4 separate regions of the Homo sapiens genome follow, and all the other regions are linked to region 4. Evidence: fine-mapped expression QTL. A gene starts in region 4. Each other region holds a variant in brackets. All regions are shown on one strand. Distances are from middle to middle.

Evidence for each region. PIP is the estimated chance that this variant, and not a neighbour inherited with it, causes the effect. A credible set is the group of variants that fine-mapping cannot tell apart.
Region 1: its variant is the best candidate, but not a certain one, in a credible set for the expression of SMIM15 in whole blood (INTERVAL, PIP 0.61).
Region 2: its variant is the best candidate, but not a certain one, in a credible set for the expression of SMIM15 in whole blood (INTERVAL, PIP 0.83).
Region 3: its variant is the best candidate, but not a certain one, in a credible set for the expression of SMIM15 in whole blood (TOPMed, PIP 0.73).

What each region holds. Positions count from the first base shown.
Region 1 is chr5:61,192,707-61,200,987 of GRCh38, forward strand. The region is part of intron 3 of SMIM15-AS1 (SMIM15 antisense RNA 1); the gene reads left to right. Among named protein-coding and RNA genes, the nearest start is that of SMIM15, 34 kb to the left of the region's middle. The variant G/C (reference allele first, on the strand shown) is at 4,667.
Region 2 is chr5:61,181,423-61,189,703 of GRCh38, forward strand. All of the region lies in intron 3 of SMIM15-AS1 (SMIM15 antisense RNA 1), which reads left to right. Among named protein-coding and RNA genes, the nearest start is that of SMIM15, 23 kb to the left of the region's middle. RefSeq lists an enhancer at 6,278-6,793. The variant G/A (reference allele first, on the strand shown) is at 4,159.
Region 3 is chr5:60,821,794-60,828,236 of GRCh38, forward strand. All of the region lies in intron 1 of ELOVL7 (ELOVL fatty acid elongase 7), which reads right to left. Among named protein-coding and RNA genes, the nearest start is that of ELOVL7, 19 kb to the right of the region's middle. RefSeq lists a silencer at 536-595. The variant T/C (reference allele first, on the strand shown) is at 3,651.
Region 4 is chr5:61,159,383-61,167,486 of GRCh38, forward strand. SMIM15 (small integral membrane protein 15) reads right to left here and starts at 3,086. Exons shown (of 3, transcript NM_001048249.4): 1 at 2,835-3,086; 2 at 1,706-1,845; 3 at 1-817. The coding sequence starts at 789. The coding sequence ends at 565. It overlaps SMIM15-AS1 (SMIM15 antisense RNA 1), which reads left to right and starts at 2,934. Exons shown (of 4, transcript NR_109908.1): 1 at 2,934-3,144. RefSeq lists enhancers at 2,253-3,149, 2,635-2,714, 2,785-3,044, 3,575-3,674, 3,715-3,774 and a silencer at 3,225-3,334.

The DNA of each region.
Region 1 (8,281 bases), 33 kb after region 4:
ATTTTGTCCTGTTGGCCTTTTGAGTCCATCAAAGCTTTGCTCAGTTATTCAGCCACCTCTTCTAAAATCAGCAGTAACTAAGGTGAATACAGCCTCAAATTTCCAGCGCACCTCTCTGCGTTTCTTACTTCTTCCTGATCATGATCTTTCTTCACTGTTTTGTTATCTCTCTGATAATTTCAAGCAAATTTTAAAAATATTTTGTCTAGTTTTTCAACTTGTTCTCAGTGAAAGGGTTGGTTCTAATTACAAAGTTTGCCATTCAAGTGAACCCCCAAAACTTACTTAAAACATTTTCAATAGTTTTTGGGGTACAGGTGGTTTTTGGTTAAGTAAGTAAGTTCTTTATTGGTGATTTCTAGAATTTTGGTGCACCTGTCACCTAAGCAGTGTACCCTGTACCAAATGTGTAGTCTTTTATCCCTCACCCTGCTCTCACTCTTATCCTCAAGTCTCCAAGGTCCATTACATTATCCTTATACCTTTGCATCCTCACAGCTTAGCCCCCACTTATACGTGAGAACATGTGATGTTTGGTTTTCCATTCCTGAGTTACTTCACCTAGAATAATGGCCTCTAGCTCCAACCAAGTCACTGCAAATGCCATTATTTCATTCCATTTTATGACTGAGTATGAGTAGTCTATATACCACTTTTTTTTCCTTTTTTTTTGATGGAGTCTTGCTCTGTTGCCCAGGCTGGAGTGCAGTGCCACAATCTTGACTCACTGCAACCTCTGTCTCCCAGGTTCAAGCGATTCTCCTGCTTCAGCCTCTCGAGTAGCTGGTACTACAGGCACGTGCTACCTCGCCTGGCTAATTTTTGTATTTTTAGTGAGATGAGGTTTCACCTTGTTGGCCAGTCTGGTCTTGAACTCCTGACCTCAGGTGATACACCCCCACCTTGGCCTCCCAAAGTGCTAGGATTACAGGCATGAGCCACCGTGCCTGTCCTATATGCCACATTTTTTTAACCACTCATTGGTTGATGGGCATTTAGGTTGGCTCCATATTTTTGCAATTGGTGAATTGTGCTGCTATATATATGTGTGCATGTCTTCTTCATATAATGACTTTTTTGGGGGAGGTCCAAAACATACTTTTCATCTACTAACTCTGTGTATCCCTATATGTAGGAATATATGTAGATGCAATAAAGTTATATAAAAAGGAAAGTAAGGGCCGGGTGCAGTGGCTCACACCTGTAATCCCAGCCTGAGCAAGAGTGATTAAAAAAAAAAAAAAAAAAAAGGTAAGTAAGGACATGATAAAAACAAGATAGGCTGTGTGTGAGGAGAAGATGGTAGATGAAGGTTATTTCCAAGTCTCTAGGTTTCATCTGAGATGTCGGGTCAAGGGAGCTAATTACATTATTTAAATATTTTAGTTAAATATTATAACTAAAAGAAGTTCATACATAAACCAATGATAAGTATATGTTATAAATTATAATTAATCCAAATCTGTGTATCTCAGTTTCAATAAAAAGAAAAAACTTATGCAGGAAAGGAAATATAGTATATTATGTGGCACAGGTGAGGATAGCATTTAAGTAATGTGAATGAATACTGAATGGTGATCTAACTAAAATTGTCCATAGAGCCAAAATTTAAAATTAAAAGTGTGTATTTATGTGGATGAACAGGATGCAAAAGATAAGCAAATCTTCATCTTCTATACTGGGAAATCAGCAGATAATGGCTAAAATGGAAAAGTGAAGAAATCATATAATAATCATTATTTGAAGTAAAAACGTAAAGAAAGAGAATCTGCTACCAGGGTTCAAAATGGTTGCCTGGAGGTACAGTGGTGGAGTTGGGAGTGAGAAAATAAGTTGATATTTATTTATAACAAGATTGTTAAGGTTGTTTGACTCCCTAAACTGCTTATAAAATCGGTAAATTTAGTTAAAATAAAAATTAAAAATAATTTTTAAACAATATCAGAACTAACTAAAAATAAAAGAAATATGTAGTACAAAATAATGAAAACTCATATCTGAGTATACTTTGCCTAAAACTTATCCTATCAATTAATCTATTATTTCAACCAATTGGTTTTCAGCCAATTCCTTTACTCTTTTTCACATGGCAAAAGTATGCTATGCCTGCTTTCAATTAAAAAAAAAAAGCTGAAGAAAGTATGTGCGGTTCATCTGCATGGATTTTTTAATTTTTTTTATTTGAATTTAATTTAATTTAATTTTAGGTTCCAGGATGCATGTGCAGGACATGCAGGTTTGTTACATAGATAAACATGTGCCATGGTGATTTGTTGCACTTATCAACCCATTAGTTAAGTATTAAGCCCTGCATGCATTAACTATTTATCCTGATGCTCTCCACCCCCACCACCAACAGGCCCCAGTGTGTGTTGTTCCCCTCCTTGCGTCCATGTGTTCTCCTTGTTCAGCTCCCACTTATAAGTGAGAACATGTGATGTTTGGTTTTCTGTTCCTGTGTTGGTTTGCTGAACATAATGGCTTCCAACTCCATCCATGTCCCTGCAAAGGACATGATCTTGTTCCGTTTTATGGCTGCATAGTATTCCATTGTGTATATGTACCACATTTTCTTTATCCAGTCTATCATTGATAGGCATTTGGATTGATTCCGTGTCTTTGCTATTGTGATTAGTGCTGCAGTGAACATACACATGCATGTATCTTTACAATAGAATGATTTATATCCCTTTGGGTATATACCCAGTGACGAGATTGCTGTGTCAAATGGTATTTCTGGTTCCAGGTCTTTGAGGAATTGCCATGCCATCTTCCACAATGGTTGAACTAATTTACATTCTCACCAACAGTGTAAAAGCATTCCTGTTTCTCCACAGCCTCACCAGCATCTGTTGTTCCTTGACTTTTTGATAATGGCCATTCTGACTGGTGTGTGATGGTATCTCATTGTGGTTTTGATTTGCATTTCTCTAATGATCAGTGATGTTGAGCTTTTTTTCATGTTTGTGGGATACATAAATGTCTTCCTTTGAGAAATGTCTGTTCATGTCCTTTGCCCACTTTTTAATGCAGTTTTTTTTACTTATAAATTTGTTTAATTTACAAGTAAATTCTGAATATTAGACCTTTGTCAGATGGATAGATTGCAAAAGTTTTCTCCCATTCTGCAGGTTGTCTGTTCAGTCTGATGATAGTTTCTTTTGCTGTGCAGAAGCTCTTTAGTTTAATTAGATCATATTTGTCAAGTTTTGCTTTTGTTGCAATTGCTTTTGATGTTTTCATCCTGAAATCTTTGGCTGTGCCTATCTCCTGAGTGGTATTGCCTAGATTTTCTTCTAGGGTTTTTATAATTTAGGGTTTTACATTGAAGTCTTTAATTCATTTTGAGTTAATGTTTGGATAAAGTGTAAGGAATGGCTTCAGTTTCAGGCTTCTGCATGTGGCTAGCCAGTTCTCCCAGCACCATTTATTAAATAGGGAATCCTTTCTCTATTGCTCATTTTTGTCAGGTTTGTCAAAGATCAGATGGTTGTAGATGTGCAGTCTTATTTCTGAGTTCTGTATTCTGTTCCATTGGTCTATGTGTCTGTTTTTGTACCAGTACCGTGCTGTTTTGTTTGAAGTTGGGTAGCATGATGCTTCCAGCTTTCTTCTTTTTGCTTAGGAGTGTCTTGGCTATATGGGCTCTTTTTTGGTTTCATATGAATTTTAAAGTAGTTTTTGCTAATTCTGTGAAGAATGTCAATGGTAGTTTAATGGGAATAGCAATGAATCTATAAATTACTTTGGGCAGTAAGGCCATTTTCATGATATTGATTTTTCCTATCGATGAGTTTTTCGATTTGTTTGTGTCTTCTCTGATTTCCTTGAGTAGTGGTTTGTAGTTCTCCTTGAAGAGGTCCTTCACTTCCCTTGTTAACTGTATTCTCTTTGTAGCAATTGTGAATGGGAGTTCATTCATGTTTGGGCTCTCTGCTTGTCTGTTGTTGGCATATAGGAATGCTTGTGATTTTTGCACATTGATTTTGTATCCTGAGACTTCGCTGCAGTTGCTTATCAGCTTAAGAATCTTTGGGCTGAGACGATGGGGTTTTCTAGACACAGAATCACGTTATCTGCAAACAGTTTGACTTCCTCTCTTTCTATATGAATACATTTTATCTCTTTCTCCTGCCTGATTGCCCTGGCTAGAACTTCCGATACTATGTTGAGTAGGAGTGGTGAGAGAGGCCATCCTTGTCTTGTGCTGTTTTCAAGGTGAATGCTTCCAGCTATTGCCCATTCAATATGATATTAGCTGTGGGTTTCTCATAAATGGCTCTTATTATTTTGAGGTATGTTCCATCAATACCTAGTTTATTGAGAGTTTTTAACACGAAGGGATTTTGAATTTTATCAAAGGCCTTTTCTGCGCCTATTGAGATAATCATGTGGTTTTTGTCTTTAGTTCTGTTTATGTGATGAATTATGTTTATTGATTTGTGTATGTTGAACCAGCCTTGTATCCTGGGGATGAAGCCGACTTGATCGTGGTGGATCAGCTTTTTGATGTGCTACTGGATTTGGTTTGCTAGTATTTTATTGAGGGTTTTTGCATCAATATTCATTAGGGATATTGGCCTGAAGTTTTCTTTTTTGTTGTATCTCTGCCAGGATTTGGTATCAGGATCATGCTGGCCTCATAAAATGGGTTTTCAGTGGTTTG[G/C]AATAGTTTCAGAAAAAAATGGTACCAGCTTCTTTTTGTATCTCTGATAGAACTCAGCTGTAAATCTGTCTGGTCCTGGACTTTTTTTGGTTGGTAGGCTATTTATTACTGCCTGAACTTCAGAACTCATTATTGGGCTATTCAAGAATTCACCTTCTTCCTGGCTCAGTCTTGGGAGGGTGTATATGTCCAGGAATTTCTCCCTTTCTTCTAGATTTTCTAGTTTATTTACATAGAGGTGTTTATAGCATTCTCTGATGATTGTTTGTATTTCTGTGGGGTCAGTGGTGATATCCCCTTTATAATTTTTTATCGTGTCTACTTGATTCTTCTCTTTTCTTCTTTATTAGTCTAGCTAGCAGTCTATCCATTTTATTAATTTTTTCAAAAAAGAGCTCCTGGATTTGTTAATTTTTCAAAGGGTTTTTCATGTCTCTTTCTCCTTCAGTGCCACTCTGATCTTGGTTATTTCTTGTCTTCTGCTAGCTTTGGGGTATGTTTGCTCTTGATTCTCTAGTTCTTTTAATTGTGATGTTAGGGTGTCAATTTGAGATCTTTCTAGTCTTTGATGTGGGCATTTAGTGCTATAAACTTTCCTCTTAACACTGCTTTAGCCATGTCCCAGAGATTCTGGTGGATTGTCTCTTTGTTGTCAGTGGTTTCAAAGAACTTCTTGATTTCTGCTTTAATTTTATTATTTACCCAGGAGTCATTCAGGAGCAGTTGTTCAATTTCCATGTAATTGTGTGGTTTTGAGTGAGTTTCTTAATCTTGAGTTCTAATTTGATTGTGCTGTGTTCTGAGAGACTGTCGTGATTTCAGTTCATCAAAAAAAAGATTATTTTGCTTTTGCTGAGGAGTGTTTTACTTCCAATTATGTGATCGATTTTAGAGTACGTGACATGTGGCACTGAGAGGAATGCATATTCTCTTGTTTTGGGGTGGAGAGTTCTGTGCATATCTATCAGGTCCACTTGATCCAGGGCTGAGTTTAAGACCTGAATATCTTTGTTAATTTTCTATCTCAATAATTTGTCTAATGTTGATAATGGGGTGTTAAAGTCTCCCACTATTATCATGTGGGAGTGTAAGTCTCTTTGTATGTCTCTAATAATTTGTTTTATGAATCTAGGGTCTCCTTTATTGGGTGCATATGTATTTAAAATAGCTCTTCCTGTTGAATTGAACCCTTTACCATTATGTAATGCCCTTCTTTGTCTTTTTCAATCTTTGTCGGTTTAAAATCTGTTTTGTCAGAAACTAAGATTGCAATCCTTGCTTTTATCTGCTTTCCATTTGGTTGGTAAATTATCCTCTATCCCTTTATTTTGAGCCTATGTGTGTCTTTGCACATGTGTCTCTTGAATACAGCACACTAATGGGTCTTGACTGTTTATGCAGCTTGCCGTTCTGTGTCTTCTCATTGGGGCACTTAACCCATTTACATTTAAGGTTAATATTGTTATCTGTGAATTTGATTGTGTCATCATGATTCTAGCTGGTTATTTTGCAGACTTGTTAATGTAGTTCCTTTATAGTGCTATTGGTCTTTGCACTTCAGTGTATTTTTGTGGTGGCTGGTAATGTTTTTTCCTTTCCATATTTAGTGCTTCCTTCAGGAGCTCTTGCAGGGCAGGCCTGGTGGTGATAAATTCCCTCAGCATTTGGCTGTCTGAAAAGGATTTTATTTCTCCTTCACTTATGAAACTTAGTTTGGCCAGATATGAAATTCTGGGTTGGAAATTCTTTTCTTTAAGAATGTTGAATGTTGACCCCCAATCTCTTCTGGCTTGTAGGGTTTCTGCTGAGAGGTCCACTGTTAGTCTGATGGGCTTCCCTTTATAGGTTGCCCGGTCTTTCTCTCTGGCTGCCCTTAGCTTTTTTTTCTTCATTTTAACCTTGGAAAATCTGATGATTATGTGTCTTGGGATTGATCTTCCCATGGAGTATCTTAATGGGGTTCTCTGGATTTTGTAAATTTGAATGTTAACCTGTCTTGCTAGGTTGGGGAAGTTCTCCTGAATGATATCCTGAAGTATGTTTTCCAACTTGGTTTCGTTCTCCCTGTCTCTTTCAGGTACCCCAATCAGTCGTAGTTTCAGTCTTTTTACATAATCCCATAGTTCTCGGAAGTTTTGTTCATTCCTTTTCATTGTTTTCTTGTCTGCTGTCTTATTTCAGTAAGATAGTCTTCAAGCTCTGAAATTCTTTCCTCTGCCTGTTCTATTTGGCTACTGATACTTGCAGTTGCATTGTGAAGTTCTTGTGTCGGGTTTTTCAGCTCCATCAGGTCATTTATATTCCACTCTAAACTGGTTATGCTGGTTAACAGCTTCTGTAATGTTTTATCATGGTTCTCAGCTTCTCTGCATTGGGTTAGGATATGCCCCTTTAGCTTAACAAAGTTCATTATTACACGTCTTCTGAAGCCTACTTCTGTCAATTCATCCATTTCAGCCTCCTCCTAGTTCTGTGCCCTTGCTAGAGAGGTATTGCAATCACTTGGAGAAGAATAAGCACTCTGGCCTTTTGAGTTTTCAGCATTTTTTGTTGTTGTTGTTGATTCTTTCTCATCTTTCTGAGTTTATCTAGCTTTGATCTTTGAGGCTCCTGACCTTTGAGTGGGGTTCTTGTGGGGACTTTTTTGTTGATGCTCTTGTTGCTTTCTGTTTGTTTTTCTTTTAACAGTCAGAATGCTCTTCTGTAGGGCTGCTTCAGTTTGCTGGGAGTCTACTCCAGACCCTGTTTGCCTGGGTCCCTCCCACACCTGGAGGTGTCACCAGTGGAGGCTACAGAACAGCAAAGAAGACTGCCTGCTCCTTCCTCTGGGAGCTCTGTCCCAGAGGGGCACCACCCTGATGCCAGTGGGAATGCCCCTGTATAGGGCGTCTGGCATATCCTGTTGTGGGGGTCTCACCCAGTCAGGAGACATGGGATCAGAGACCCGCTTAACAAAGCACTCTAGCTGCTCCTCAGTGGAGAGGGTGTGCTGTGCTGGGGAAATCCCACTCATCCAGACTGCCCTGACTCCTCAGAGACACCAGGCGGAAAGACTAAGTCTGCTGATCCGCAGAGACCATGGCTGCCCTTCCCCTACGAGGCTCTGTCCCAGGGAGATGTGAGTTCTGACTATAAACCCCTGGCCTGAGTAGCTAAAATTCCCACAAGGAGGCCCCACTGGTTGAGGAGGGACGGGTAAGGGTCTGGCCTAAAGAGTCAGTCTGGCCATGATCTGCCACAGCCACTGTGCTGTGCTGTGGGGAATTCCTCCTGGGTCCAAACCACCCAATCTCCCCAGCATCCACAGGGGAAAACCAGCAGACTGGAGCTGCAGTGGTGGCTGCTGCCCCTCCCACTGGGAGCTCAGTCATCTTAGGCAGCAGGAAGCCACAGTGATAATGGCCACCCTTCCCCCTGGGAGCTCAGTTGGTCTTAGGCAGCAAGCAGCTGCAGTGATGACAGCCGCCCAAGCCCCTGGGAACTTGGTAGTCTTAGTCAGCCTCCAGCCGAAATGTCCGCTGAGAACCTGCACAGCTCTGTGCTGGGAACCAAAGCCCTGGTGGTGTGGGCTCATGAGAGGGGGTATCGTGATCTGTGGGTTGCAGAGATCTGTGG
Region 2 (8,281 bases), 22 kb after region 4:
AAGATTGTTCCAGATCTTTGTTCTATATCTCTGTCTTTTATCCTTCCCCCTTGCAGAAGTCATTCCTATTTACCTTATTTAAAAAACGAGAGAAAGTATAACTCAGGCTGAAATAAAGCACCAGACTAAAAAGAGATGCCCATTTTCATTCAATATTTATATTTGCCAGAATAAAGGGAGACAAATAATTATTTTGCCTTTAAGGCCTTGATTCTGGATGATAGATTAAGTAGACAGACTGTTGACCACATGTGACTTAAGGAATATTGTTAATTATTTTACCAATCTTTGGATCAAGGTTTGCTTGAAGTAAGTAAGCTGTGCTGTGGATAAACCTTTGGATGATAAAGAGTGAGCTGTATTGCCTTCAATATTGTTTGCATCAGAACATTACTAAGTGGTATCGATTTTGAAAAATAAAATTCAACTTTCTGAGAACATAGACCAGATTCAAGTATTTTTATCTTTTTTTCCCCCCTTTTTTCAGAGAATGGAATCTCTCCACGTTGCCCAAGCAGGTCTCGAACTCCTGTACTTGAGCTATTCTCCCACCTCTGCCTCCCTAAGTGCTGGGATTACAAGCGTGAGCCACTGTTCATGGCCTTAGGGACTTTTAAATGTTAAATTGATTTTGACCTACCCAGGAGCTAGAGAATACCAATGATTACAGAGGGGAGAATAAAATTGCCGTATAGATTTTCTGTGCTCCTTTAGAAAATCCATTCTGGAGTAAAGAGATGGGCAATTGGTCAACTGAGTTTCTTTCTTGTATAATATGTCAGAGTTTGATATTGTCAGTCTGTTAACCAAGATTTTTATTGGGATATTTGCTGAAAGAGGCTCTAAGAATATCCCATCACCAGTAATTAGAATTTGTTACAGGTTTCAGTCAGGGTAGTTGAAAGGGAGCTAATTTGGTAACACAATAACCTAGTACCCAACTAATTCAGGAGCATGAAGAAAAATTGGTTGATTAAGGCTTAAGTCAGATAAATAATACTATAGGTTGACATGGCTGGGTTAGCTCAGGTTTGTATATTTGTTTTTTCAAAGAGGCAGACTTTTCCTAAGATTAGAATCCACAGTAATGATGGAAGCAGGAAACTTAGGGGCAGGCCATAGGTGTAAAATCAAAGTTGAGCTGCTTCTGTGTTACAGCTGTAAGCACAGGAAGTTGCCCATTTTTTTCAAGCACTATTTCTGCATAGTCATATATCAGCTAGTGTTGTCAACATAGACACAAGAGACAATAGGAATACGTACATGCAATTCCACCATCAGCTAAAAAACCCACATAAGTCTTTGAAGCTCTCAAATAACACGCATGACACTGAATGGTACATTTTGATGCACTTTGAAACTCTTATCTCTTTAGTTGGTAAGTACATTTGAACACTTAATATGTGCTCAGCAGAAGAGAAGGAGAACAAGGGAAGTCTAATATAAAATCAGGATTTTTTCTTTTCTCTTTGAAGCCAATTAGAATGTGTGTATGTGTGTGTGTGTGTGTGTGTGTGTGTGCGTGTGTGTGTGTGTGTGTGTGTATTATTTAGTGTAGTAATCCTTGGGTTTTTTTTAAAAAAACGTGTTTTACTATGAAGTGTAACATACAAGAAAGTGATAACATATGACATATACAGCTTACAAATGGTTGTAAGAATTAATACACTTTGTAAGTGCCACCCATGGTAAAAATAAGTAGGTGGAGAAGGAGGAGAAGAAAAGAAGAATTTAACTAGCATGTCAGAAGTCTCATGGATCTCTTTCCAGTCACAACCCTCTCACCAAGCTCGATTCCTATTCCCTGAGTAAGTTCTAATCTTACTTTTCTTTTTTTTTTTTTTTTTGAGAGAGAGTCTGACTCTGTCACCCAAGCTAGAGTGGTGCAATCTCGGTTCACTGCAATCTCTGCCTCCTGGGTTCAAGTGATTCTCCTGCCTCAGCCTCCCGAGTAGCTGGGATTACAGGCATGTGCCACCATGCTGTGCTAATTTTTGTATTTTTAGTAGAGATGGGTTTTCGCCATGTTGGCCAGGCTAGTCTTGAACTCCTGACCTTAGGTGATCCGCCCGCCACAGCCTCCCAAAGTGCTAGTATTACAGGCATCAGCCACCGTGCCCAGCCTAATCTTACTTTTAAAGTAATCATTTATTGCTTTTCTTTACAGTTTACCACTTGGATGTGCATCCATATGTACCATATACAACCATAGAGTTTAGTGTTGTGTGTCTGGAAACTTTACAGAATGAGGTCATACTTTATATATTCTTTTGTCTTGTTTCTTTCACTTGTTATCTATGATGTTGAATGTAGATGCAGTCTGTTCATTTTCATTGCTATGTAGTATTCCATTAAATAAACGACAACTTATTTATCCATTCTACTATGTTGGACATCTGGGTTGCTTACAGTTTGCATTACAGATAATGTTCCTGTGAATATAGTTATGCTATCCCTTGGTGCATATAGGCTTGCATTTCTGTTGGACATAGTCCTAGTCAGTAAAAAGGAATATGACAGAAGTCAATGAAACTGTCTTTTTCTGAATGAAAATTTAGTGAGCCAGTAATCTAATGAGGAAAACAGCTGTTCTTTTTGTTATTCTAATGGTAGGTGCTGTCTGGATATAAAGATGACCATTTCATTTGCTTAATATGAATGTCTACAAGTATGTTTCACCAAGAAAATAAAATACATTTTAGTTTTAAACCATATCTGGTATTATTTCTAGAATTCTAAAATTAACAGGATAAAAAGTCCTTAGAGGGCAAGGATTCTTTCATTTTTTAAATGTACTTCACAGTGACCATAGCAATGCTATTAAGATGCTGAATCCCAACCAAATATGCATTCTCTTGACAAATATACTTTGGAGTAAAATTATTTGTACAAATGCATATAACTTTTCAGATGTCCAGAACTTTAATTTTTCCTTTATTCTAAAAAGGGGGAAAAGATGGATTCCTTTAACTTAAAACTGTTTCTGTTTTGAAAGCCTCTATCCTGAAAGATAGAAAATAATAGTTTTGATGAATCCATGTAATATTCTGTGTTCTTCACAATTTTTCTTACAACATTATTCCTCTATACATGTTCTTAGTATAGATAATATTAATGTATTTCTGAGGCCATTAATAATTATAATTTGGGCCTTTTGTTTGCCTTTTGAACCTGGAAGACAAAATAGATAGTATATTAAGATGCAAATGTATATTTTCTAATGGACTTGTGCTTCAAAGCATATGTATTTTAGGGCTTGGCCTGATTTTGCCAGCTAAGGCCAGATCATTGTAAATTGATTTCAATATCTTTCTGCTTTTATAAGCTTTGTTCTAAAGCTTCACAGGAAGAATCAAAATAATGTTTGTCACACTGTTCTAGCTTAGCTGAAATCTTGTTCCTGTTTACACTAAATGACCATTGGCCTAATGCAGTTAACATGAGTACTTTACAACTCATCCAAGAACTATTTCAAGTGTTGAGGAAAAGGCACTTTAATTGAAAAATTACTTATGCAGGATCAGACTGAGCGAGAATGCTGTTTTTTGTACATTCAGCATATTACACATACCACGCTCCATTTTGCTCCTTTGTTATAACAAATGAATTCTTTTTTGCAATGAAAGGATTCTTATGGTTTATCTTCCTTGGGGATTGTAACTTTCAAAAGGTGCTCTTAAATATATTACTACTTTATTTAAACTATTCACTTCCCAGATGTGCAGTGCTTTGCACAAAGAATAATTCACTAATGCCTTGAGCACACAAAAGGAAAATGCTCTGCTGGGTTTCCCTTTTTATTTTACTTTCCAGTGGTAGGTTTATGACTTGATGCCCAGCTTCTTAATAAATTCACCTCTCACAGGACACAGTTCTCTTTAATATGTTTTCCATGCTTATAGAAAGAAACACTGTATTAGCAAACACCAGTAGAAATTTCATTTTCACCACGTTGCTTTCTCTGGGTATATATAGAGAAACCCCTTAAAGGGCTTCTCCAGGACAACTGAAAGTTATCTTTTTCATTGATCTCTTCTGTGGCTTTAAAATATTTTCTTGACAACATATTGTTTTTATTAATCTAAATTAAGCATTTTAGATTCTTTTATGAATTTAAAAGATATTAAAACCAAAGAATTGGAAAAATATCTAAGAAAA[G/A]TTACTAATTTCCATGGTGGGGTATAGAGTTGGTGTGTGTAGGAAGTTATACAGGCAGAGGAGCATTGGAAGAAAAGTGGTGTTTAAGGAAGATTACTGTAAACTGGCAGCAGGCAAGAGTCCAGGACGTTTACCCTTCCACCAAGTTTTCCCAGCCTGCTCTAGCCATGCTATTATTTTACAAGCTCCTATACATATTATATAATATATAAGCAAGAATGGATGGATGGGTCAAAATAAAATGCTTCTATCAGCAAGTTCCCTTGATAAGACAGCAATGGTCAAAATTCACATGAAATAAAAAGATCTTGGATATGGTTTCTTCCCGGGACTTAGAACTTTAATATGTTAATGTACGTCTTGAGGTTCCAAAAAGGGCCTTATATTTCAAGGAATGCTGGTGTTTCAAGCAACAGAGTTTGGGAAACAACAAGGTAAATGATAATCTAATGCATTTAGGTAAGAGGTAAGTGAAAGTTAGAATATATGCTTGAGCAACATGTAACCATAATGGCTGTGGAGTCCCAGCTTTGAATATCTTGGAAGAATAGACAATTATCAATGTTCCTCCCTCTCAAATGATCCTTCTCAACACAGGTTGTGCTTGATGAATCTTTAAGAACAGAATCTTAGCAGGATTTTGTCAAATGCCTTTTCTTCATCTGTTGAGATAATCATGTTTTTCTCTTTTAGTGTATTAGCATGATGAATTCCATTGATTGATTTTCTAATGTTAAACCAATCCTACATTTTTCAGATGAACCCCACTTGGTTATGACGTACTATCCTTTTATCCCTTTAATATATTGTATTTGATACTCTAAAATTTTGTTTAGAATTTTTACATCTATGTTCATAAGGGATACTGGTTTGTAGTTTCCTTTGCTGTAATATCTTTGTATTTTCTGCTCTATTTTTGGAAATGTTTGAGTAAAATTGTTATTTATTCATTAAATGTTTGGGAGAATTTACCCTGAAGCCATCTGTGCTTGGAGTTTTCTTTTTGGGAAGATTATAAACTGTGATGTCCATTTCTTTAACAGATACACAGTTCATACCAATACCCTCAATTCCAGTCCAACACCACAAAGTCTATTCTAGTTTTCATCCTTTCCATACCTGTAACTCCCTACCCTGACAATGAGAAACCCCTCTCCCATCATCTTTCACGTACTTCCTTATTTGGTTAATGTCTCTATATATAACCCATCTTCTTTTGCCGCTGCTGCCTCTCCAATACAAGTGCCCTCTTCACCTCCCTTGGGGTCTGAAACTCTGCCAAGGGCAGCAAGTGCTACTTCCCCTTCTACCCCTCAATGCATGCCCTCCTTACACTACCCAGGCTGATACCATATGCCAGACTGCCCCCATTGCATGGTGATATGGCTTGGCTCTGTGTCCCCACCAAAATATCATGTTGAATTGTAATTCCCAATGTTGGGGGAGAGAACTGGTTGGAGGGGATTGGATCATGGGGACAGATTTCCCCCTTTCTGTTCTCATGATAGTGAGTTCTCACAAGATCTAATGGTTTAAAAGTATGTGGCACTTCCCCCTTCATTCTATCTCTCTCCTGCCACCATGTGAAGATATGCTTGCTTTCCTTTCATCCTTCTGCCATGATTGGCAGGAGGACTTCCTGAGGCCTCCCTAGCCATGTCTCCTGTACAGACTGTGGAACTGTGAGTCAATGAAACCTCTTTTCTTTAGAAATTACCTATTCTCAGGTAGTTCTTTATAGCAGTGTGAGAATGGGCTAATGCAGAAAATTGTTACCAGGGAATTGGGGTCTTGCTATAAAGATACCTGAATATGTGGAAACAACTTTGGAACTGGAGAATGGGCAGAGGATAGAACAGTTTAGAGGGATCAGAAGAAGACAGGAAGATGAGGGAAAGTTTGGAATGTCCAGGAGAGTTGTTGAGTGATTGTAACTAAAATGCTGATAGTGTTATGGACAGTGAATTCCAGGCTGAGGTACTCTCAGACAGAGATGAGGAACTTATTGGGAACTGGAGTAAAGGTCACTCATGCTATGCTTTAGCAAAGAGACTAGTGGCATTGTGCCCCTGCTCTAGAGATCTGTGAAACTTTGAACTTGGAAAGATTATTTAGGGTATCTGGTAGAAGAAATTTCTAAGCAGCAAAGCATTCAAGATGTGGCCTGGCTACTTCTAAAAGCTTGTGCTCATTTGCATAAACAAACAAATGACCTGAAACTCAAACTTATATTAAAAGGGGAAGCAGAGCATAAAAGTTTGGAAAATTTGCAGCCTGACCATGAGGTAGAAAAGAAAAATCCATTTTCTGGGGAGGAATTCAAGGCTGCAGAAATTTGCATAAGTAAAGAAGAGCTGAATGTTAATAGCCAAGACAATGGGGAAAATGCTTCCAGGGCATTTCAGAGACCTTCACAGCAGCCCTTCCCATCACAGGCCTGGAGGCTTAGGATGGAAAAATAGTTTCATGGGCCAGGTTGAAGGTCCCGTGCAGCCTTAAGACATGGTGCCCTGCATCCCAGATGCTTCAGCTCTAGCTTTGGCTAAAAGAAGTCAAGGTACAGCTCGGGCCATTGCTTCAGAGGGTGCAAGCCCAAGCCTTGGTGACTTCATGAGCCTGGGCCTGTGGGTGTGCAGAAGACAAGAGTTGAGGTTTGGGAGCCTCTGCCTAGATTTCAAGGGATGTATGGAAATGCCTGGATGCCCAGGCAGAAGTCTTGATATGGTTTGGCTCTGTGTCCCCACAAATCTCATCTCAAATTGTAATCCCCACGTGTTGAGGGAGGGAGGTGATTGCATTATGGAGGCAGTTTCCCTCATGCTATTCTCATGATAGTGAGGGATTCTCATGAGATCTGATGGTTTAAAAAGTGTGGCACGTCCTCACTTGGCACTTCTCTCTCCTGCTGCCATGTGAAGAAGGTCCTTGCTTCTCCACCTTCTATCATGATTGTAAGTTTCCTGAGCCCTCCCAGCCATATGGAACTGTGAGTCAATTCAACCTCTTTCCCTTATAAATTACCCAGTCTTGGATATTTCTTTATAGCAGTGTGAAAAATTGACTAATACAAGCCTGCTGGTATTACTCAATACAAGCAGCAGGGGTGGAGCCTTCATGGAGACCCTCTACTAGGGCAGTGCAGAGGGGTAAATGTGGCATTGGAGCCCTCACATAGAGTCCCCACTGGGACACTGCTTAGTGGAGCTGTGAGAAGGGGCCACCATCCTCCAGACCCCAGAATCAGATCCATCAACAACTTGCACCATGCACCTGGAAAAGCCACAGGCATTCAATGCTGGTCAGTGAAAGCAGCCACAGGGACTGTACCCTGCAGATCCACAGGGGCAGAGCTACTCAACGCCTTGGGAGCCCACCCCTTGCATCAATGTAGCCTGGATGTGAGACATGGAGTCAAAGGAAATCATTTTGGAGCTTTAAGATTTAGTGACTGCCCTGCTGGATTTCAGACTTGCATGGGGCCTGTAGCCCCTTTGTTTTGGCCAATTTCTCCCTTTTGGAATGGGAGCATTTACCCAATGCTTGTCTCCCCAGGAATTAACTAACTTGCTTTTGATTTTATAGGCCGATAGGCAGAAGGAAGTTTCCTTCTCTCAGATGAAACTTTGGACTTGGACTTTTGAGTTAATGCTGGAATGAATTAAAACTTTGAGGGACTATTGGGTAGCCATGATTGTGTTTGGAAATGTGAGAAGGACATGAGATTTGGGAGAGGCCAGGGCAGAATGATATAGTTTGTCTCTGTGTCCCTACCCAAATCTCATGTTGAATTGTAATTCCCAGTGTTGGGGGAGGGATCTGGTGGGAGAGGATTGGATCATGGGGGCAGATTTCCCCCTTGCTGTTCTTATGATAGTGAATTCTCACAATATCTGATGGTTTAAAAGTGAGTGGCACTTCCCCCTTTGCTCTCTCTCTCCTGCTGCCATGTGAAAATGTGCTTGCTTTCTTTTTACCCTTCCACCATGATTGTAAGTTTCCTGAGGAAACTTGTACAGCCTGTGGAACTGAGTCAATGAAACCTCTTTTCTTTATAAATTACCCAGTCTCAGGTAGTCCTTTATAGCAGTGTGAGAATAGACTAATACACATGGACACCCTCCTC
Region 3 (6,443 bases), 340 kb before region 4:
GTGACATCCAAGTATGTGATGCTTGTTGAACAAGGCATAGACCAGTTCAAGTGTTGCTGAATTTGTGAGGTGAGTCACATGTGGTGCAACCTGCATATTCACTATGTGCAATAGGACCATTTACTGATCCACGATAGGGAAAAAAAGAAAAAAACAAATTAAAAACCCAGTTGGTCTATTACCACAGATAGTTTGAGAAGCACTTCTCTAATGCCTTCAGGTGTGTTCTTACCTTCCTCCTTTTGGGAATGTTGTTTGCTGCCTGGGACAATGCAACAATGCAAATGTCTAATAAATATCAGTGAATAAATAAATGAAGGTGTGAATGATAAGAAGGCTTTGTGAAAGATGTGAGACTGAGCTATTTCTTGGTGAACAGTAGGAATTGGGTACTTTGGGGTTGTAGGATAGTCAAATGCACTGAGAAAGGAGTGCAAATGAGGAAGAGTGTGAAAGACACTGCATAGGCAATAGGAAGCGCTGAAAAGGTGAAATATTATTCATAAGCTCGATATGTAAAAGAGCTCAACCACACAGGTCACCAGAGTGCTACCCACTGAAAACCCCAAGCCTGTACCAGAAGAATCCCCTTAGTGCAAGCTTTAGCTATAGGCAAATCAGCTATGCAAAGGATGAATGTGATGGGTGAGCCTAAGAGCAAGAAGACCGAGTGGGGTTTAATTCCATCATCCCAATGAGAAATCATTATAGGCCTGAACAAGGGCAGAGATAGTTTGGTAAAGTAAATCCCAATGTGACAAGCCCAGGGGACATTCAGGTGGAGATGTTTAGCAGGCACTTGGGAGGAAGGTCAAGGCTAAGGATACAGCTTTTGGAACTTCACATCTAGTTGGTGATGAAAACCACAGTAATAGATGCATGAGAACAATAGTGGTCTAAAGACAAACGCCTGGAGAATACCATCACTTAAGGGGAAGGCCAAAAGATGGAATCTCACAAAGGAGACAAAAAAAGAAAGAGTCAAAAAGACATGAGGAGAACTCAGTACGTGCAGGATCATGAAAACAAAAGTGGGAAAAATTCTGAAGAGGGAGGCAGGGATGAATAGGGTCAAATGCATCAGAGAGGTTCAGTGCATAGAGTGGAATGGTCTTCAGCAAATTCAGCCAACCTGGAAGCCTCTGTGACTGGAAGGAAGAAGAAATTAAGCAATGATAAGGCTGAAGCCAAAATGCAAAGGCAGGTGATTAATAGCAGGCATTGAACAGGTCTTGTTCACGAAGCCTGGTGGTGAAGTCTAGAAGAGAAGAAGGAGAGGCAAAATCAAGCTTTATTAGTCTTAAGGTGATAACTGTTGGAGTATTTTTACAGTGAGGGGATGAAGTAATAGAGAGAAACAAGAAGGAACAACCCATGAAGGTCTAGAGGAGAAAATGAGGGGGATGGTCAGAAGCCCTGCAAGGCAGCATTCTCCCTCCACTGGAGCAAGGGTGATACCTCCTCCGAGAAGGAAAACGGGAAAGAAGGGCGTGAAATAGATGAGTTAGTAAAGGGGAGGAAGCCTTCTCCAGAGCCTAAGTCTGGATTAGGGCCCTTCCTACATGCGCCCATAGCATGTACCATGTCCAGTAATTGCCTAATTGACCTGCCTGGATGCAGGGATAGACCATAAGCACCAGGAAGGCACGGACTATAACTGTCCCATTTACCACTCTATGTCCCATGCCTACCACAGTGCCTGGCTTATCTAAGCCCTAATTAAATGTATAGTTGACTAAATGGGGACTAAAAATTAAAGAGGATTCACCAATAGATGCTTCAATTTTTCTAGCAAGTAGGAAGTGGGATCAATTGCCAAGGGTTTATAAAACGGAGTTAGGTAGAGGGTTTTTTAGAGATTAGTGAAAGAATAGAATAGCTTTTCAGGGAAATGGAAACTGAAAATCCTTCAAGAACAAGTTTAAAGTAGTGGTTCTCAATCTTAGTTGCACATTAGAATCACCTAAAGAACATGAGTAACTACTGATGCTTGGGTCCTGCCTCCAAATTTCAGATTTAACTGGTCTCTGTAGCCTGGGCTCCAGGATTTTTTTAAGTTCCCAGATGATTCTAATATGCAGCCAAGATTGAGAGTCACTGAGTGAAAGACTTAAGTAATGCTGGTCAGGATTGAGACAAGACTGGAAACCATGAACTGATCCATTTACCATTTTACCCAGTTTTCCACCACACTGTTCAGCTACCTGGGTATCCCTGCAGAGGATTACTGTAGGATTAATTTGGAATTAGGGCTTTACCAGGTAAATATGGAAGTAGGATAAATAAAAAATTCAGACACTACCTGGGTATCCGTGCAGAGGATTACTGTAGGATTAATTTGGAATTAGGGCTTTGCCAGGTAAATATGGAAGTAGGATAAATAAAAAATTCAGACACCAAGGCAAAATTATAGTCTCTGAGAGAGTGAAGAGAAGGAGGTATAAGAGAGCTGAACAGCCAGAGACCTTTACAGTGCTGTAAAGGTTATCACAGTTGAGTCACACAAGGAACTTTAAGGCCGCTCACAAGTCGGCATTTGAAGGGACGTGGAAGTCTCCCAGAGCAACAGCAGGAGTAACGATGGAGAAACGTCAAAGTCTCTAAGGCATGTGGGATTGAAGCGAAGAACAAGAGACAAAGAAGACTAAGAAAGGCAGAGGCAACAAAGCCCAACAGTGAGATGTTCAAAAAAGGAGAGTTTTGTTTCATTTTCCTATGGAAGTGAAAAAGTAACAGTTAGATTCAAATGTGGCAATGGATAGATAGGGGAATCCTGGCCAGTCCACCCAGATCTTTAAATATGGAAGAAAGCCTCCATTTCTTTCTACATAAAATTCATGAACAAATCCTATCTTCTAAATATATTCTAGAATCCAACTACTTTACTTTAACGGTGGCCCAAGCCACTGTCCTGTCTTATCCGGATTGCTGCAGTAGCCTCTAAGCTGGTCTCCCTGACTTCATCTTTGTCCCTCTTTAATGTCTTCCTCAAGTTAAAAACAACAAAACAAAAACTCAAGTCATGTCCCTTCTCTGTTTAAAATGCACCAATATTTTCCCACCTCACTCACAATAAAAGTCAAAGTTCTTATAATGGGCTCCACGGCCTTACATGATCTGGGCCCTGACTACCTCTCTGACCTCTGACCTTTCCTTCTTCTCACTTCTTTTTTTTTTTTTGAGACAGAGTCTCACTCTGTCACCCAGGCTGGAGTGCAGTGGTGCGATCTCGGCTCATTGCAACCTCCACATCCTGGGTTCAAGTGATTCTCCTGCCTCAGCTTCCCAAGTACCTGGGACTAAAGGCACACACCCAGGCTGGTCTCAAACTCCTGACCTCAAGTGATCCACCCAAAGTGCTGGGATTACAGGTGTGCGCCACCATGCCCAGCCTCACTTCTCATACTTAGCTTCAACTGCATTGATCCCCTTGTCCTTCCCTGAACACACCAAGAATGCCCTGCCTCAAGGCATTGAAAATCACTGTCCCCACAACCTATAGTTCTTTTCCTCCAGATATCTGCCACAGCTTACTCCTTCACTTTCCTCAGATCCCTGCTAAAATGTCACCACTCCAACAACACGCACTTCCCTTACCTTGCTTTATTTTTCTGCATCGTACTTTTCAGTGTTATATATATTTATATGTA[T/C]TTCACCAATATTCTAAATTTACTTGTTTACCGTCTGGCCCTCTCTGCCCCCAAGAATGCGCTATATTATAAGCTGCTTAGGGGCAGGGATGTTCTTCTGTTTTGTGCACTCTTACCTCTCTGGCACCTGAAACAGTGCTTGACGTGTAACAGACACTGAAATATTTGTTGAATGAATGGATGGATGAACCTTCTCATAAGCAGTGTATGGGCCTGAGGTTGAGGGAAAGAGCTGTGATTCAGTTATATTTGGAAAATGATGAGACTGGGGATACAAGAGAACTGGAACACAATGGAACACCAGTCTCAAAGAATAAAGGACAGAGCTGAAAGTATGGTTAATAGTAACAGGAGCCAATAGAAAGGCTATAATACCCAGTAAAGGGTTTCTCTTTTGGTCAGTAACCAAAAATTACAAGAATGAGAGGAAGGGTGGGAATCCATAGCCTTAAATACCCTGCCTTGAGACAAGCAAGAATTGGCAGTCATAGGTTCAGTCCAAGTAGGGACAGGAATAGGGCATGGAGCCCCATCTGGGGAAGGAATGCCCAGCGGTGGACAGGCAGGGCACATGGACTGATGAATCCTATAGAGAGCAAAAAGCATAATGGTCTTTCCTATTACAAATCTGAATACAGGGGAGGTATTACGGTACATATACACCAAATAGTACGTATCTATAAAATGTACAGGTAAGCCAGAAAGGGAGGAAAAATAAATGGTACTCAAGGAGAGGGGTGGTTAAGAAAAGTAACCAACAGTAAGATCAAATTAATTCATCCTGTTTTGTATTTATGAGTACAGTTCATTTATCCAGCCTCATCTTCTAATGCAGTGTTTCATAAAAGTATTTTAGATAACTGAAATGCTTATCTCTAGGTGTAATCAAAGATACACCTGCCCAGATACACCTGTATCTGTGATTCTGATTTTTTTTTTACTGTAAAACATTTTTTTAAAGATTTCAATCATCTTATAACTGAACTTTTCTGGATGATTCAGGGATACTATTAAGATAACAGTATCATAGCAGTGTCCTCTGGGACTACCCCTATTTATGGCTATGGATCTTTGCCCTGCACTAAAAGTTCCAAATTGCAAGGCATTTCTAATGCCAGTGCCTGTTTTTTAACAAATTTCCTGTCTCCTCCCTATCAGTTTGTTAGCTACTGCTCTTCTTACTGTTTGTTACTAGCATTCCTGTTTCTACAAAATCTCACTCATTCTAATTTGTTTTCCCTAATATGCTATGGGATGGGAAATGAGAAAAACAACAACATTGGAATGTTTAAAATAGTGCTAAGTGGGTGGAGATTAAAAACCAGGGGGTTTCCTTCTGGGTGGAGCACAGATGTACTCAAAAGACTTTGGGACATTGTTTTCTCTGCTTGGGGATAATTTCTCTGCTTACTCATTTCCAGAAACATTTTAGGTACTGAAACTTCATGATAAATGGCCTCTGGGTTAGCAGACTGTATTTGTATCCATACTACTTTCTTCAGTACAGTTAGACTAAAATGATTGTTATTAAGGTGTCTCAATTCTCTTTAACAAATTAAACATGAACACAGATTCAGAACAACAGAGGATCTTCATTTATTCCATGTCTGCAAAAAACATCTCTAATTGAGAACGAAATGTATAATTTAGTTATTTTAACTGAAGAAAACATTTTCCCAGGGAAAGTGTAGTTACACACCTAAGCTAGTAGACAAATTGATTTAATGCATAATCTGTGTATACATTTGCAATACAATATTGCTAAAAATATCATTACTTAATTTTTAGGTTACGTAATTTTGATATGAAGGAAAAGATGCCAGAAAAAACTTAGACTAATATTTCCTTCCACTATTTATCTGGATAATATATAGTTTAATTCAATATTTCCTCAATGTAGGTTCCTCCAACTATGGCCCTTTCAAACAACAGCTGAACATCAACAAACAAAAATTGTAGACAATGTGAAACTAAAACAATGACTACCCTATAAAAGCTGTCATGTCAAATATTTACAAATATCTTTCTAGGTAAACATAGAAAAACATTTTCTTCTAGACAATTTTATACAAGATACTCAAATACCATGGATTTTCTTCCTAGTTAGTTGGGAGTAGGAAAGAAATCCTGGTTATTCTGGCTGGCTTTAGCTACTATAATGAGATTTCATACATTTGATGTTTGAAAAAGCCTAATAATTTCTAGACCTTTAAATGCCCCATCATGAAAGAATTGCCCAGAAGAGTGAAAAGTCTCAAATTCTACAAATGAGCATGTAATTTATTAACTTAACCTGCAATGATTAATAGGGAATAGAAATAAAGGAATTTCCATGATCACAACCAACACATGCCCTTGCCCTAGTTTCCCCAGGTGACCAGTTTTGGTACCACAACCCACCTGTGGTACAGGCCCCAACCTTGGCCTCCCATCCTTCCTGCACACCCAGAATCTCTCCTTCTTCATCTTTCTTTCACTCTTTCTGCCCTTCTCACTCCTTTCCATCCACAGAGGCACACCCCCATCTAGGCTCTGTGCTGGACCAAGTCCTCAATTTCCCACATTTTACACCCCTAGTTCCCTCTCCCCTAACAGTGTGTCGAGGCAGCAATGTGAATCCCCAGCTCAAAGCACCTCTCACCAGGACCTTTGTCTTTTCAGAACCCTCTAGCAATTTGTTAGTGGAGTCTGGAACCAAGCTGGAATTCCTGCTTGTGGGCTTCATTAACAGGACCCCTTTGACCCCTCACCCTCACCTCGCACTCTGATTCCTGATAATCTTTCAGCCAAGTA
Region 4 (8,104 bases):
CTGTAATAAGAAAAATGCAGCAAATAGAAGTACTCATTAATATTATTTTGTTTTGAGAAAGCCAGAAATGATTCTAAGAAATAAACAATAATAATAAAAGATGTAATTAATATACTGTATCCCTTTTAAGCCAAAGCACACTTTTTACCTCAAGACTGTTCTGACTTTTACATTCTTAATTTCCTTTGTCCAAAATAGGACCCCATTTTAAATAGAGTTCATTTGAATTGAGTTCATAATCTAAAGTCACTTTTCCCCACAAGATGTTTTCATTTCAGTATATAAACTGCTAAGCGGCAAATGACTAAGTCAGTTATAAAGAATTTGTACCACAGTAAATGCTAATTTACAATAACTGTCAATAGAAACCTATAAACTTCTACACCCACGCCTAAAAGTTACTATAGTATTGAGGTCAGAACTAACATGATTCTTCCATTTGGTCAAATTTCATTTACTAAATCATACTGTCAAGAAATCCAAAGAAGAAACTTTAGTGGATTCTTCCAAAGCTGTGTAATTTTCCAAATGATTTTCCTCTGGTTGCAAAGCCTGTTCAGTCCTTCAATCCTTTTTTAGTCGTTTAGCTTTTGCAATGTTTTCTTGGCGTTTTTGCTTCTTCTTTTGCTCCTTCTCCCTGGCCTCAATCATCTTGGCCAATTTCCAAGACAGTACAGCACTTGCTAGGAACAGTGGAGTAAGGGCCAAAATAACGGTTGTAAGGAAGCCATAGGGGTCCTTTGCAGCCCATTCCACAACATACTCAGCCCAAGCCTTTATATCAAACATCTTCACAGCAGTCTTATGAAAACTGGGGCTGGGGGAGGCGGGTGGAGAACACAGAGGAAAAAAACAGGAGAAAAGACTATGTGGTTAATCAAATTTTGAAAAAGTTTCCTCACACAACCAGTTAACTCAGGATTCCATTATCACTCAGTTTGCTTTTTTAAAAAGTACAACTTAGTACTATTGTAATAAGGACTAGTATCTCTGGTTAGGAAAAAGTAATTCATCTAGTACAGCCAGAATAGTGACACTTCAAAGAGGTAAAGTTATAGAAGATTTAAAAAAGCCATGTGACTCTGTCATAAGGACTATGCATTCTCACATGCCTCCTATATTCAAGACAAACTTTATTTAGGAGGAGGCTTTTATAAAAATCTTGAGTTTTCTGTGGTCATTCCAGGAAACAGCTGAATACAGTTTGTCATTTTTTGACATATCCTTAGTATTACTAATTAACAAAAATACAAATCAGCAAATTTGGTGTTTGAAAAGGACAAGCAACAGAGCATGTGAAATGCTCGCAGAGAAGGAGAGATGACTATTTCCCCGAATGGGAAGGAGAGGGTAAGGGAGTCATGACATCGCATTAATATGCCAAAGAAGCAAAAAGTACTGTGCTATTTTATGCCCTTTCAGCTTTGAGGACCTCTGTTGGAATAAGCCTAATTTAATAAATGAGAAAGTAGCCTTAACAGATGCCATGTGTTTTGTTCCTTTTTGAGTGTAAGGAAAAGGCAACTGGCAAATGAGGATTATGTGACTTGAGTGACGTTTTCTATTTTGCCCCAGAGGCTTTTCTCCCTTTCATGTTTGTGTCAACCGCTATTCAAAGTGGAGAATTAGAATACCTGGGTAGGGAATGAGTGTATATACATCCACTTACAATTTCAACTGGAATTTTTTTAAAAAAATCATCTACCTTATGCTTGAGTAGTGATCCCTTAACTTTGTCCTGGTGTTATTAGTGACCCAATCACGACTTCAGATGACCCTTGGTAGTCTGTCTTCTTGAGTTCTACTGTACACATCTGAGAGACGGTTTAAATTCTGTACAATTGGCTAGTTGGAAAGAATACAAAAAATAAAACAAAATTTAAGTCACAATTTCAGGATAATTGTAATAAAATTTTAAATGGAAAATTTCTATATTGTATATATGCAACCTATATGACATCTAAAATTGCCTATCCGGTATAGTAACTTAATACGTTTCTTCCTCATTTGAATTTACAATTGCAAATGCCCTGTAAGAAAATCCTAATTACTGGAAATCAAGTATTTTACTAAGTTACTTATTTCAATAATAAAATTTTTTTAGTTCATTGACATACGGGAGACAAGTTGGCTCACTGACTGACTTACACAGCGTATCCGTTCCTAGATTTTCAATTTTTATACTAAAAATGTTGCCACTCATTTATTTACTGGATTAGGTACACCACTACAAAATCAAACAGCTCATCTTACTCTTTATAAAGGTTTTTTTGGGTCCATCATACAATTTGTGTCCTTTACTTAAAAAATTAGAAGACATAACCAAACAAATTATAGTAATTCACCCACAGTCCCATTACCCCAAGAAAACTGTGACTAGTTTTAATTATATCTTCCCCACGATTTTCAACTGAACACACATGAAAGTGCCTAATACGTTAAATATCTTAGCTCCTGGACTTCATACGACCTCACCCATACAGTTAGAATTAGGTACTACTGAGATCGATCTGCCTTCACCTTCTCCAGCCCAGTAGCGAATAAACAATGTAAGTTTCAGAAATAAGCAAAAGAACTTTGCAGTAAAAGAGCCATGGTCCACAGGCCACACATCTCCCTGCAACTCAACTTCGGACCCAAACGCTCGCGCCTCCACACTTTCAGGAATAAATCCTACTCTTCCGCCCAAAACGGATCGACCAGGCTCGATCTCCCAACCAGACCCGCGTGGCCCCTGCGGCTGCAACGGGTAGCACTTGACGGCCGTCCGCACTTCCTCCTTTGTCTTTCCCTTATTCCTTACGTTTCTCCCTTGCTCACTCTTCCCTCCTTACCCTATCGGGGCTGCAGACCCACGGAGGCCACGTTCACTCCTGCCCGTCGGCCTTGGCAAGCGCGGGCCCCTTGTCGCGCAGAGCGGAGGGTCCTGGGAGATCCTGGGTTGGCCCAGCCACACCTTGCGCCGCCGCCGTTTCTGCTGGACACCAGGAGAAAACCACGGCAGCTGCAGCCACCAACTTCCCCTACATAGCCCCACGGGATCGGATCCCACTCCCCACTCACCGCCAGACCGGAAGCAGGAAGGCGGAAGTCGCGGCCTTTGCGTCCCGCCCACAGGCGACCCGAGCCGCCAGCCGGGCGTGAGTAAGTCTAGGGCCCAGTTTCCGGCTGCGCCATTGCTGTGTGGGTCTTGGGACCTCGAGTTGGAGGACGCGGGAGGGTGGGGGCGGGGGCAGGGCAGCGCTGAGATTTCCGGGGAGCGGCAGGTGAGGCCGCGCGGGGCGGGTGACGGCACCCGGGCGGGCTCCTTTCCAGGCTGGAGCCCGAGACTGCCACGTCCTGCGGGGACCAAGTGGTGGGCGAGGAGGCGTGGAGCGGCTTCAGGACTCGAGGAGCGGTTCCGAAGCAGCTAGGGACTTTTGCCTTTGCCCCCCGAGGTCGATCGGAAGACAACCCCCATCCCCTGCTGTAGCGGGACAGTTGGAGGGTCATGGGTGGGTGAAGTGTTTGGCTGAGGGAAACTCAGACCAAAGAGCAGCGGCAAGAAAGCAGTTGGGTCCCCACAAAACGCCCGAAGTCAAGGTGAGGGTCACACAACGACTCTTGACGATTCCGGCGAGTTCATCCTGGTGCACATCCCACTCCATGCCTCTCTCTTCTGGTTGGACAATAGTTACATCCTTACGAAAAGGAGGCAAGCTACTGGGCCTTGGTGGATCCACTCAACCTTGTTACCAAGGGACATGCCGCCATGCTATGTGAAAAGGGGGGTTTTGTTGTTTGTTTTTAATTTAAGTATCTAATTCGTTTCACGAAAGAATGATCAATACCGGCCCAGAGTAAACTTGATAAGTAATTAAACTGTCAGGGCATAGAGTTCCCATAGAGGTGCTTGTTCTTTCAATACACAAATAAAGGGATGCAAAAGTCAACATGCAGAAAGGGTGAGTTAATATTGTCTTCTAATCTACAGGAACTGAAAGATTAGCTAATCTGGTTTGGTTGGTGACCAAATTTTGTGATTGCTTGCACTGTTTGACTACCTCTGACAAATGTTGCAAGACCTCTTCACTGATTCTCCAAAGACTATAGAATGTTCTCTTTCAGGAGCAAGCTGCGACATGTTTAACTAGTTTAGGTAAAACAACAATAACTGTTATTTACCAGGGAACAGGCTTTTGGCAGATAATCTAACGATCTACGATACTGTTCGTTGGGCATATGTTAATGTTTGTAATGTTGTATTACCAGCAGTTGTTTTCTTACTCCTTTTTATTTGAAAACCTGGATGATAGTTTCAAAGCCTATGCTGCTTAGGCCTAGCCTGTACCTTAGTAGCCAGAAAAAGTAGACTCAGTCACTGGATTGTGTGCACTGAATACTTACTTGAGATAACTGATTTTTCTAAAACTTCCCCAAGTCTTGAATCCAAGATGTGGGCAGAATGTATTATTTTAACATCCTTCGTTCCAGAGGCCAATGCGTGTTTTATTTTAATCATGATAGGTGGTTTTCCCAGTTACTGCCTCCGGATACTTGCAGTGCTGCATCCCTAGTTAAAAGCCCAGAAGTCTTGGGCAGGAAGGAAGGGCATATAAAGAGAAAGCCTTTGTAGTTCTTTAGCTGTAATCTAGACCAGGGGTCCCCAACGACGGACTGGTACCTGGTTTGCAGCCTGTTAGGAACGGGGCCGCACAGCAGGAGGTGAGCGATGGGTGAGTGAGCATTTCCGTCTAAGTTCCGCCTCCTGTCAGATCAGCAGCATCATTAGATTCTCATGGTGCGAACCGTAATGTGAACTGCATGTGCGAGGGATCTAGGTTGTGCGCTCCTTATGATAATCTAATGCCTGATGATCTGAGGTGGAACAGCTTCATCCTGAAAGCATCCCCCATCCCCGTCCATGGAAAAATTGTTTTCCACGAAACCAGTCCTGGATGCCATTAAGGTTGGAGACTGCTGATCTAGACCATGCCTTTACAATCTAAGTTTGCTCATCTAGCTTCAAGTTACAGGACAGTCTGCAAGACCAGGAACAGCATAGGGGTTGCCACAGTGGAGCTCCTTACTGCAGTCTGCATTGCCTTAACTAAAGGTGGTGTCAGGATTGATTCAAATACTGTGAACTACTTTCCATAAAGAGAAGTCTGAGCTCGTGAACTGAGATTCACAGTTGTGGTACAGTAATGTTATGTATACTCTGATAAATCACTCTGAGTGTGTTTCCACTTAGATATGTGGAAAGCATACTAGGCAATCTCCAATGCCCTTTCAGCTTTAAAATCTGTAAATTGGACTGGATTTGGTCATTTTTCTTAAATAAATAGCATAGTAAGGTATTTGATAGAAACATTATTGCAAGTTTTCTTAAGGTCTTTTTTTTTTTTTTTTTTTTTAATTTTGAGACGGAGTCTCTGTCACCAGGGCTGGAGTGCAGTGCTGCGATCTTGGCTCACTGCACCCTCCACCTCCCAGGTTCAAGCGATTCTCCTGCCTCAGCCTTCTGAGTACTTGGGACTACAGGCGGGCATCACCACGCCCAGCTAATTTTTGTATTTTTAGTATAGATGGGGTTTCACCATTTGGCCAGGATGGTCTCGATTTCTTGACCTCGTGATCCACCCGCCTCGGCCTCCCAAAGTGCTGGGATTACAGGCGTGAGCCACCACCGCGCCTGGCCTTTTTTTTTTTTTTTTTTTTTAAACACGGTCTTGCTCTGGCCCAGCTGGAATGCAGTGGTGCGATCATAGCCCACTGCCTCTTCGAACTCCTGGGCTCAAGGGATCCTCACTCCTCACCTTCTGAATAGCTGGGACTACAGCCACAAGCCACCATGCCCAGCTTAGCATACTCATTATTTTTTAAACCTATGACCAGTGTTAATTTTCTGCTTAATGTATTCAGTTCTAAGTCAAGCCCAACTAGAGAGAATGAGTTTCAGTGATTTTTTTTTTTTTTTTTTTTGAGACAGGGTCTCACTAAGTCACCCACGCTGGGGTGCAGTGGGTCCATCACTGCTCACTGCAGCCTTGACTGCCTGGGCTCAAGCGATCCTCCCACCTCAGCCTCTAGAGTAGCTGGGACTACAGATGCATGCCACTATGCCCAACTAATTTTTAAAAATTTTTTTCTAGAGGCAGGGTTTCACTCTGTTGCCCAGGCTGGTCCCAAACTCCTTGCCTGAAGTGATCCTCCTGCCTTTGTCTTTCAAAGTGCTGGCACTACAGGTGTGAGCCACTGTTCCAGGACAAGATCTTATTTCTTTGTTTGAAAAGATCCTTAATCAGGTTTTTATTCTCTCAAATGTCTGTCAGAATACGAATTTAGAATAACAAGGAAATAAGGTCTGCTTTATTTACTTTTAAGAAATAAAATATTATTCATGTAAGTTTAGCCAAACTAACTAAACCTGATGCTGTTAATGAAATAGGGCCTGCCTTTGCATAAGATAATTCCTGTGTAGTATATCACACCACCAGCCTCTTCAGCACTAGTGTACTCTATTGCAATTATATTTTATAAGTAGAGCCTTATAAAATTCTTTTGTCTATTGAGAATGGAAGTCCTGTGGCAGTCCCATGCCATTTTTTTTCTTAAAAAGTATTTTTCCCTTGATTGGTGCAAAATTATATCTCATTCTAACCCATGTCAAAGTTGTAAGTAGTGAAACCAGAATAAGATTCAGATAATATTAAGATAATAATATAGTTTAATAATAACAATTGAGTGTGTCTAAAAGACTTTGAGAGTTCTCTTACCTGCATCTTACTTTGATGGAATTGGTTTCTTCCCTAAATTTTATTTTGTGAGGTTTTTTACTTCCATTGAAACATAATGCAAAACATTTCTTAATAGGCACATTTATGTAATATTTATTTATTTTTATTTATTTATTTATTTTGAGGCAGAGTCTCGCTCTCTTGCCCAGGCTAGAGTGCAGTAGTGCGATCTCAGCTCACTGCAGCCTCCACCTCCCAGGTTCAAGTGATTCTCCTGCCTCAGCCTCCCGAGTAGTTGGGACTACAGGCGTGCACCATCATGCCCAGCTAATTTTTGTATTTTTTGTAGGGATGGGTTTTTACCATATTGGACAGGCTGGTCTCAAACTCCTGATGTCGGGTGATTTGCCCGCCTCAGCCTCCCAAAGTGCTGGGATTACAGGCCTGAGCCACTGTGCCCAGGCAGTGATTTTTTTTTTTTTAGCATAATCAGATTTTAGTGATATTTGAAAGTTTATACAGAAGAATAATTTTTTTTAAAGCTACTTATTGTGGCCAGGCACATTGGCTCATGCCTGTAATCCCAGCCCTTTGTGAAGCAGAAGCAGGTGGATCACCTGAGGTCAGGAGTTCGAGACCAGCCTGATGAACTTGGTGAAACCCGTCTCCACTAAAATTAAAAAATTAGCTGGGCGTGGTGGCACATGCCTGTAATCCCAGCTACTTGGCAGGCTGAGGCAGGAGAATTGTTTGAACCCAGGAGGTGGAGGTTGCAGCAAACAGAGATCATGCCATTGCACTCCTGCCTAGGCAACAAGAGCGAAACTCCATCTCAAAAAAAAAAAAAAGCTACTTATTCCAGCTCTTTGGGAGGCCGAGGCTGGTGGATCACCTGAGGTCAGGAGTTCGAGATCAGCCTGACCAACATGGAGAAACCCCGTCTCTACTGAAAATACAAAATTAGCCAGGCATGGTGGCGCATGCCTGTAATCTCAGCTGCCCGGGAGGCTGAGGCAGGAGAATTGCTTGAACCCAGGAGGCAGAGGTTGCCGTGAGCCGAGATCGCGCCACCGCACTCCAGCCTGGCAGCCTGGGCAACAAGAGCAAAACTCCATCTCAAAAAAAAAAAAAAAGTTACTTATTGAGTACTTAGTATGTACCAGGTGCTGGGCTAGGTGCTTCACACTTATTATCACTAATCCTGAAACTAAACAACACCACAGGATTGTATTTTTATACTAATTTTACAGATAGGGAACCAGAGACTTTAAAAATAAAGCAGGAATTTTAAGTATATCTGGCCAAAATCTCTGCTCTTTTTTAATCGAAAAACAAAACCATTGTAGAATCAAAAAACATGCTTTCATTCTATGAAATCAGCGTTT